2 separate regions of the Homo sapiens genome follow, and region 1 is linked to region 2. The links come from fine-mapping of genetic effects on gene expression. A gene starts in region 2. The other region holds a variant in brackets. All regions are shown on one strand. Distances are between the middles of the regions. Region 1 has its middle 43 kb from the start of LRIF1. Region 2 holds the start of LRIF1 (ligand dependent nuclear receptor interacting factor 1).

Evidence for each region. PIP is the estimated chance that this variant, and not a neighbour inherited with it, causes the effect.
Region 1: its variant is the best candidate, but not a certain one, in a credible set for the expression of LRIF1 in whole blood (INTERVAL, PIP 0.55).

What each region holds. Positions count from the first base shown.
Region 1 is chr1:110,917,668-110,923,197 of GRCh38, forward strand. It overlaps a transcript of LRIF1 not described here. Among named protein-coding and RNA genes, the nearest start is that of LRIF1, 43 kb to the right of the region's middle. The variant C/T (reference allele first, on the strand shown) is at 2,979.
Region 2 is chr1:110,961,340-110,966,339 of GRCh38, forward strand. LRIF1 (ligand dependent nuclear receptor interacting factor 1) reads right to left here and starts at 2,583. Exons shown (of 4, transcript NM_018372.4): 1 at 2,282-2,583. The coding sequence starts at 2,349. RefSeq lists enhancers at 2,171-2,707, 2,242-2,451.

The sequences.
Region 1 (5,530 bases), 43 kb before region 2:
GGTCAACATAAAAAAATAGCTGTAGTAAACAGTTAAACTGTATAGTATGTTATAAAGTTATATGTGCTATGGAAAAAAATTAGATCAGCTAAGGGGTGATATAGGTAAGGGACTGGGATTAGTTTGAGATCTATAACTTGCAAAGAACAATATGAGAGAGGAAAATTATAGCACCATCTTATTCATAACATACAAATCCTAAACAAAATCCTAACAGAATTTGTTCAGCAACATATAAATGGTGTTTTATGCTCAAATAATTTTGTCTCAGAAATTAAAAACATTAGTTTTAAAATCATTAAATGTGATTTAATTCATTGATAGATTAAATATGTAAGATTATCTTAATATATCAAAATGCACTGAATGAAATTTAAAATTAAAAACTTTTAACAAAATTACTTTAAAAATTGACTTTCTTAAATTTATAAAAGGTATCTAAAAACACCTACCTCCCCTCCACTACACAAACATAAATACACACACATACAAAACCAAAAGAAATCCTAAACTCTGCAACAAACACCTTGCTTAATGATGAGGTGCCGAACATTCCCTTTGAGACTGATGTCAAGATAAGATTGTGTGCTGTCACTAATACTCAGCACTGTCCTGAAGATCAGGACTGTGTAGTAAGACAGGAACAAAAAATAAGAATGGAAAGGGAGAAATAATATTGTTATTACTCATAGATGATAATGATTTTATTTTATAGTCAATCCATTATTACTAATAGACAAAACATTTAAAAATGTATCATAGTTGATAAAGATATATCAAATCCAAAGATTAATTAAACGTTATGTATAAATGACAAAGAATTATAAAATGAAAGAAAAAAACTCAGGAGATTTAGTTTTCTGATAATTGTGATGAGGTTATTTGGATATACTATCTCACTGAAAATAATAGAAATGAGGGATAAAATATTTGTAAAATCACCTTAGAAGAATGGACAACTTGAAGAGACAGTGAGAAAACTCCAAGGCCAATTTTATGAGAAAGATAGGCAAAACATCAGCACCCAAAAATGTATTGAGCATTTAGAGACCTCACACACTTGGGCTTTGGTTCAGAGTCTTCATGGTACAGAAGTCAGAGGAAGAACTTCCCCAGGCAAGGAGTCTTACAGGAGATCTTCTCCACACATTACACTGGACACTAAAGAACTACACACTCAGATTAAGAGCCAACCAGAAGAAAAACCACTCCCTCCACCCAGTTGGAAGGAGTTTCTCTGCCAGCAAACAGAGCATAATATTTAGGGAATATAAAACTGGACATAAGAAGTGGGGGCCACGGCCTGGCCCTCCAGTTTACACCTGAGTTAGACATAGCTTAGGTCAGCCAAAAAATTGCTGGCTATACATTTACTTTGAGGTGGTTTCTTATGAGTGGTACCTACAAGTACCTGACAAAGTAAATGGCACAACAGAGTGAAACTAGAAAACCAAAGTCAATGAGAAAAATCCTTAAAACATCTGTGATGGTTAATACTGAGTGTCAACTTGATTGGATTGAAGGATGCAAAGTATTGTTCCTGGGTGTGTCTGTGAGGGTGTTGCCAAAGGAGATTAACACTTGAGTCACTGGGCTGGGGAAGGCAGACCCACCTTTAATCTGGTGGGCACAATCTAATCAGCTGCCAGCGAATATAAAGCTGGCAGAAAAACTCGAAAAGGTGTGACTGGCCTAGTCTTCCAGCCTGCATCTTTCTCCTGTGCTGGATGCTTCCTGCCCTCAAACATCGGACTCCTAGTTCTTCAGTTTTGAAGTTTGGACTCTCTTGCTCCTCAAGCTTGCAGACAGCCTATTGTGGGAACTTGTGATCGTGTAAGTTAATACTTATTAAACTCCCCTTTATATCTATCTATCTATCCTATTAGTTCCGTCCCTCTAGGGAACCCTAACTAATACAACCTCCAAACAAAAAAAAGATTATCTTCCAAAAAGTGGTAAATTGGCTAAACTTTTCTGGAGGCTAAAATCAGTAGTATGATAACTTCAAAGCTAAAGAAAAATAACTGCCAAATTAGAATTCTATGCTCAATGAAAATGTCTTTCAAAATGAAAATAATAAAAAGAGAATTAGAAGGCAAGCCACAGACTAGGAGAAAATATTTGCAGGCACATCTGACAAAGGGTCGTTATCCAAAATAACCCAAGAACTCTTAAAACTGAACAATAAGAAAATGAGCCACCTAATTAAAACTTAGGCAAAAGATCTGAACAGGCATCTCATCAAAGAAGATATACAGATGACAAATAAACATATAAAAAGATGTTCAACATCATATGTCATTAGGAAATTGCAAACTAAGACAATGAGATATAATACATATCCAATAGAATGGCCCAAATCCAAAATGCAGACACCATCAAATGCTTGGAGGATGTGAAACAACCAGAAGTCTCTCATTCACTAGTGGCTGGTGGTAATAAAAAAGTACACCCACTTTGGAATATAGTCTTGCAAAACTGAGCATGCTCTTACCGCATGATCCAGCAATCATGCTCTCTTTGGTGTTTACCCAAAAGAATTGAAAACCTATGTTCATACAGAAACCTGCATATAGATGTTTATAACAACTTTATTAATAATTGCCAAAACTTGAGAGCAACTAAGACATACTTCAGTAGATGAATGGACAAACTGTGGTACATCCAGACAATAGAATATTATTCAATGCTAAAAAAAATTACCAAGCTACAAAAAGACATGAAGGAACCCTAAATGCATATTACTAAGTGAAATAAGCCAATGTGAAGGCTACCTAATGTATGATTCCAGCTATGAGACATTCTGGAAAAGGCAAAACAATGGTGACAATAAAAGGATCAGTAGTTACCAGGGGTTAAGTGGGGAGGGAGAAATAAATAGGCAGAGCACAGAGGATTTTTTATGGCAGTGAGATTATTTCTTATAATACTACAATGGTAGATACGTGTCATTATAACATTTGTCAAAACCCATAGAA[C/T]GTACAACACCAAAAGTGAATCTTAAACTCTGGACTTTGGGGTGATAACGATGTGTTAGTGCAAATTCATTGATTGTAACAAATACACCACTATGATGGGGGCTGTCGATAGTGGAAGAAGCGGTACATGCGGTGGGGAAAAGGCATATATAGAAAATTCGTACTTTCCACTCCGTTTTGCTGTGAACCTAAAACTGCTCTAATAAATAAAGTGTATTAATTTAAAAGGTTGAAGTGAAATAAAAACAATTTGAGACAAGTGGGAGAATTTACGACCAGCAAAATCTAGTTAGGAGAAATTCTAAAAGATATACTTCAGGCAAAGGGAAAGTGGTCCTAGGGAGAATGTCTAAGATGCAAGAATAAATGAAGAGAGGGAAAAAAGTGGGCAAGTACAAATGAACATGACTTTCCAAAACCAGAATCATGTTTATGAAGTTTAAAATATACTTAAAAGGTCTACTCAAATTCCCAGACAATAACATTTGAATTGTGAGGTGTGTATATGAAGTTAAAGTGTTCTAAAAGCTTTGTATCATCTGGTAGGTGAGTAAAGGTTTTAATTAAGTTACGAATTTGGTAGTTAAGTGTTCATGTTTTCAATGCTTGGGTTACCAGTGAAGTGCAGAAATAGTATGAATAACTTCTAAACTAATAGAAAAAAAATGAAATGATTAAAAAGGAAAACATATTCAGTCAAAAAATATCAAGAAAGGACTTTTCTGTTGGGACTAATAAACAATAAAAAATAAAATGGAAATGTGAATCCAAATATTTCAATGGAAACACCAAATGTAAAACAATTAAAGGTCCAACTTTTTTAAAAATCATAAAATTGAATAAAAACAAAATTTAACTAATACAACAAAAAAGCATTATTAAAATCAGGCAAAATAATAGTTTAAGGAAAATAACATTATTATAAGTGAAAGACCACTTCAAGTCACCAAAATAATAGCAATTTAAAAAATGTTATATGTCAAATTATATAGTCTCAAAATTTATAAAGGCAATGACTGACAGAACCATAGAGAGAAATAGACAAGTAGATAATTATAGTGGGATATGTCTAGCAAACTTTTTTTCAGTGATAGTGCTATGGTTTAGACGTGCCTCCTAAAGTTCATGTGTTAGAAACTTAAGACTCAAGACAACAGTGATGAGAGGTGGTACCTTTTTTAAAAAAAGCTTTTATTTTAGTTTCAGGGGTATATGTGAAGGTTTGGTATACAAACTTGTGTTATGAGGGTTTGTTGTACAGATTATGCCATCACCCAGGTGTTAAGCCCAGTACTCAATATTATCTTTTCTGCTCCTCTCCCTCCTCCCACCCTACAACCTTATGTAGACCTCAGTGTCTGTTGTTCCTTTCTTTATGTTTATGACTTGTCATCATTTAGCTCCCACTTATAAGTGAGAACATGTGGTATTTGGTTTTGAGTTCCTGTGTTAGTTTGCTAAGGAAAAGGATAAACCTCCTGCTCTATCCATGTCCCGGCAAAAAATATGATCTTGTTCTTTTTTATGGCTGCATAGTATTCTATGATGTATATGTAGAGAGGTAGTACCTTTAAGAGATGATTAGGATTTGAGGGTTCTGCCCTCATGAATTGATTAATGCCATTATTGGGGAAGTTAAATCATTATTGTGGGAGTGGATTCCTTACAAAGGATGAGTTCAGCCTTCTTCCCTCTCTCATATCAGTGCCTTCTGCAATGTTATGATGCAGCAAGAAGGCCCTCACCACATGTTGGGGCTTTGATCATGGACTTCTCAGCCTCCAGAACTGTGGGGAAATACATTTCTGTTTTTAGAAATTACCTAGTTTCAGATATTCTGTTATAGCAGCACAAAACAAAAACAGGTAAATAGAATAAGTAGATGTAAAAAAAAATCAGTAAAGATAGAGAAGATTTAGGAAACGTGATTAATAAAATTGTCCTAACAAACCCATATATAAAGTTATCCGTCCAATATGAATAATACAAATTGTTTTCAAATAAACACACATTGTAGTTGTTTTCTATTGCTACTGTAACAAATTACCACAAACTTAATGGCTTAAAACAACACAGATTTGTTCTCTCATAGTTCTGGATATCAGATGCCCAGAATGAGTTTTAAAAGGTTAAAGTCAAAGTCTCAGCATTTCTGTTCATTCTGCATGCATTAAGGGAGAATCTATTCTTTGCCTCTTTCAGCTTCTAGAGGCTATGGCATTCCTTGGGTCTTGGCCACATCACTCCAGACTCTGCTTCCATCGTAACATTGCCTTATCTCCTCCATAGTCAAAGCTCTCCTTCTCTTCCTCTTGTGATTACATTGGACCCACCTGGATAATCCAGGATAACTTCCACACCTCAAGAACTCTAACTTGGCCAGGTAGGGTGGCTCACACCTGTAATACCAGCACTTTGGGAGGCTGAGGCGGGCGGATTGTCTGAGTTCAGGAATTCCAGACCAGCTAACATGGTGAAACCCCATCTCTACTAAAAATATAAAAATTAGCCGGGTGTGGTGGTGCACACCTGTAGCCCCAGCTACTCTGGAG
Region 2 (5,000 bases):
TGTTTAAACTGTATTGATAGTAAGTGGTAAGCTAGGATATGAACCCAAGTCTCTATGACTTAAAAGGTTCTTTCCACTATAGCGTTCTGACTCCTGCTTTATTCTTCGACAATAAAACCCAAATCAATATAAATTAAATGCATACCATCACAAATATCTTCCAGATTTTTCCTTTGTACTCTAAGATTAAATTTGGGTTTTACATGTGATGTTCTGATGAATTAAGAGATACTTCAAACAATATACAACAATATACAATTCTGTATTATGCTACTGAAAAATTTTAAATAAGCAGTAACAGGAAATATTTAAGCTACAAACAATAAGAAAATCATAGTCATTTAAGTTATAAAAATAAATGATTTAGTACCATCAAACATGTTACCAGAAAAATAAGAAAACTAAGTTTCCAATAAACTACAAGGGCCGTTAATATTATTTACAAAATTATATTTGGATGTTTTATTACTTACAGAACAGAATGGAATCAAATACGCAACCATTAACCAAAGTAAATGTCGAAGCTTCAGAAAGTCATCTGGTAAATGTCCCAAATATATGATGTAAAACCTCAATGATTTAAATAAATACATTCAAAAATAATAAAAACAATGCATAAATCAATGAGTTAATGAACTCAAAATGACTTATGAATGTAATTTGTAATTTAAAAATCTCCAAATCCCCAAAAGGATTAGAAACTGGATAACAGAGTTAAGGGTACACACACACACACACACACACACACACACACACAAAGTAAAGTTGTTTATCTTACTTTTTGTATTTAAAAATGCAATCCTAAAACAAATTTTCTATAAATTAAGCTAAGTCAGAAGTCAGTAAGTATTCAGGTACTAAAATAAGGCTGCAGAAATTAATCATTTAAAAAGTAATTCTACTTTCTCATATGTACACAGGGCACTCTCTGCCCCTTCCCCCAAACTTCCACCACAAAATTAAAAAAAAGAAAAAAGAAAAAAACACACAAGTACACCAAAAAATGGCTCTTTTTATGATTTGAAATACAATGGTTCTATCTTGACAGTTCAACAGAATTTTGGCTCATTACTATTAGTGACCATTTCCTTTTATAATATTGCTTTTAAGGACTCACCATTACTTACGGTCTTTATTGCAATGGAGTTTTCTACTTGCAATTAAAGAAAACTACCTGCTGGGCTAAAATCTGTACAGAATTAAAGTTGTATGCTTATAATAGTAATAGTTAACATTTAAATTGTGCTTTACTATTTTCCTACACGACGTATTTTACATTATTTCATTCTCCTAATCTTTAAAATATTTCTAAGTGCTATTATTTACAGACTGGAAACAGGTACCTGGCCTCACAAATGCTAACTAGCAAAGTTGAGATTAACCCCAGGTAGCTTGATTTTCTTCAAACGAAAATCCTCTTCCATGAGTTTTGCATCTTAGTTCTTCATTTTCTTATTAGAGTCTGCAGACCCTATTTTTTCCTCATCACTTAATCTACTAACCATGTGAGAGTACAAGTGAAAATATTCTGCTTTAGCTAACATTGTTTCCAATTCATTTCCTTGTAATACAATTTAAAAAAAAAAACCCAAAAACTAAGTTACTGATCATCTATTTTCTAACTTTACAAGAATATCTTCCTTAGAAATACTGGACTCTCCTCATGCCAAATATAAATAGCCAATGAAATGGCACTTCATTACACCCTACTTCAAAAAGGCTGTTCAAAAGGACTGACTTTACACGAGGATTTCTCCAGTCTTACTTCTCTCTCTTCACATAAAACTATTACTTGAAATTTTAAATATTCGATCTCCTCATTCTAAAGCCCTTTTTCTTCAATCACACACCCTTTCTGTCTCACTATTAAAATCTATTTTCACTGAAGGTCCAGCGCCACCAGGGCTGCACTTGCTAATCCGTGCTGACTGCTGCGTTTCTGCGTGTGCGTGAGAATCTTCCAGAAGGTTTGAGTCACATAAGAGCGTCGGCCATCTTGGTTTTCATCTCCCGTGGAGATCTACTCGGTCCGCCTATTAAACTTGAGACGCTGGGGTCCCGCGGAGCCGCTGTGTCAGGCTCTAAAGAGGTTTTACATTTCCCAGAGGAAAGCGCTCTATGGGCTTTAAGCGCCGCGGAGACAAGCGCTTCCCGCCTGGGTGGCGCACTCTGCGGGCTCCAACTCCTCTCAACTACACAGCGTCCGGAAACGACGGCCGACTCCACATCCCTAAGACGGACAGAGGGGCAGCCGTGGGGAGGATTCGAAACCGGTACTTACCAACGCGAGGCGTTGCCTGAATTTTCCTCTGCGGGTTTCAGGAAGACCCTCCGTAGGTTATTTGACATTTTAGTGGGGAGAAAGGGGACACCTCATCCAGAAAAGTGGGAAGCGTGGGGCCGAGTTTCCCAATGGGGCGAGAACCAGAGCGAGGGAATGTTGGGCTGGAGTTGCCCACAGCAACTGTGAGGGGTTCGACCTTAACGGAGGGCGACAGCGGGCTCTCGAGAGGGTGTATCCCCAGGCTTCGGGACGAGGTCGCGCACCGCGCAGAAACCGGAAGGCTCCTGGCGGTGGACTGCGCCCTCACAGCCCTACGCTGAGAGAGAATCGGCGTGAGTCTCCGCCCTCAGAGCCTACGACAACTCTCCAGACTCCGCCGGAGCAGGCGCAGGGGGCGTGGCCTTGGTGGCACCACCCCCAACAGAGCCTGGTCAGTGCTGAAGACTGCGTCAGTCTGGCTCTGCCGCCCCGCCCACTGAAGCCGATAGCTGGAGCAAAGCTCGGTCGGGCGTCTTCCGGGGTCGTCACGTCCGGTTGCCAAGGTGACTGGCTCGCTAAAGCCCAACCCTTATGATGCAATCCAATGGCAAGTGATATTTGCTATCTTTTCTTCCGGATCAAGGAACAAATCGCAAAAGAAAGCTCTCCCGACACCTACGCAAAATAAAATGTTTCCGGGGTCAATCATAAATTTTCTGCTTCTGTGCTCGCCGCTAGCGTACGTTTTTCTCTCCCGTCAGTGCATTAAAAGACATCGGCGCGCTTTTTTGGAGTCATGCACTTCTGGCCTGAGAAAACTTAAAACGCCTGCCTGTGGCCAGCGATTATTGTTGCTGCTTCTCTGAAGGTTTCCCATTTACTCCTCTTTCCTGAAGCTTTGCCTCTAGACTTACTTAACTCTTTCCTCCAGCCTACGTTCATCGAAACTATCACTTATTGTCATATAGACCTTTATTTCTGAAGGGAGATCTGGGAGTTGCATCAGAACATCCATTGTATTCATTAAATCATTTATTCAGCTGTCCATTGCAGTTGATGCTCTTTATCTCACACTATTTGAGAATTTTTCCTCGCAGCACTATTAATTAGTCCCTCATCTTGACGCCATTGGCAATATACTTTCCTGGTTTTGCTCCTACCTTTTTGTCTACACCTTCTCAATCTCTTTTGAAGATATCTCCCTTTTCAAGGGAGTTCCTTTCAGCTTGATCACTGATTCTCTTATGTTTTCAAACTGTCTTGTCTCGATTCGTGGTTTTATTCATGCTCCTGGATTGAATTACCACCTCCACCCATTATTTTACCACCAAACACATGTATGTCCTTGGCACTGATTTAAGTGTTTTACAAAATTAATTTACTCCTAACAGCTAATAAAATAATTATTATATGCAGATGAAGTAACTGATGCTCAGAGAGGGTGAACAAATTTTTAGAGGTCATAGAGCTTGTGAGTGATGGAGCCAGGCTCCAAATCCAGGTTGTCTGGCTAAACACACCATGTACTACTGCATTATGCTGCCGTGTGACTCATAAATTTATGTTCCCAGTTCTGATTTCTCTGAGATCTATACCTGGATGTTCAAGTGAATTGTTGAGATATCCTTTTTGCTATTTTAAAAGCCCCTTCAAATGAAACATGTTCAAAACCACACTTATGACTTGCTTCTCTTCCCCCCACTACACGTTTTCTTTTATCAGTGCTATCTCAGAAAGAAAGAAAGAAATAACTTCCTTCCATTAAAGTTGCCTAAATCCCAGTGTCATCCTTAACACTTTCCTTTTTTTATTCCAAAATATACAATTCACCAACTTTTGCAGATTTTATCTTCTAAATATCTTACAAGTCTGCTTTATATTTCTATTACTACTACTGTAGAGCAAGCTTACTTGGTCTAGTAAAGCTTTAACGGATACCCTCATATCCACTCCTTTTTTATTTATTTATTTTTTTAGAGGGAGTCTCACTCTGTCACCCAGGCTGGAGTGCAGTGGGCAATCTCAGCTCACTGCAAGCTCCGCCTCCTGGGTTCACGCCATTCTCCTGCCTCAGCCTCCTGAGTAGCTGGGACTACAGGCGCCCGCCACCACACCCAGCTAATTTTTTGTATTTTAATTAGAGATGGGGTTTCACTGTGTTAGCCAGGATGGACTCGATCTCCTGACCTCCTGATCTCCCCGCCTCAGCCTCCCAAAGTGATGGGATTACAGGCGTGAGCCTCATATCCACTCTTGTATTCCTGTAAATGCTGCAGCCAGAGATACCATATGGAAACACAAATCTGATGGTGTCATCTCACTGCATTAAAAAAAAAAATCAGTTTCCCCATTGCTCTTATGATAAGGATCAAAATCCTTGATTCTTTTCCTTTTTTTCTTTTTCTTTTTTCTTTTCTTTTTTTCTTTTTCTTTTTTAGACAGGGTCTCACTCTGTCACCCCAGACTGGAGTACAGTGGCGTGATTTCAGCTCACTGCAATCTCCATCTCCTGGATTCAAGCGATTCTCGTGCCTCAGTCTCCCGAGTAGCTGGGATTACAGGTGCGCACTACCACGCCTGGCTCATTTTTTGTATTTTTAATAGAGACAGGGTTTCACCATGTTGGCTAGGCTGGTGTCTAACTCCTGACCGCAAATGATCTGTCTGCCTTGGCCTCCAAACGTGCTGGGATTACAGGCATGAGCTACTGTGCCCAGCCAAAATCCTTGATTCTAAT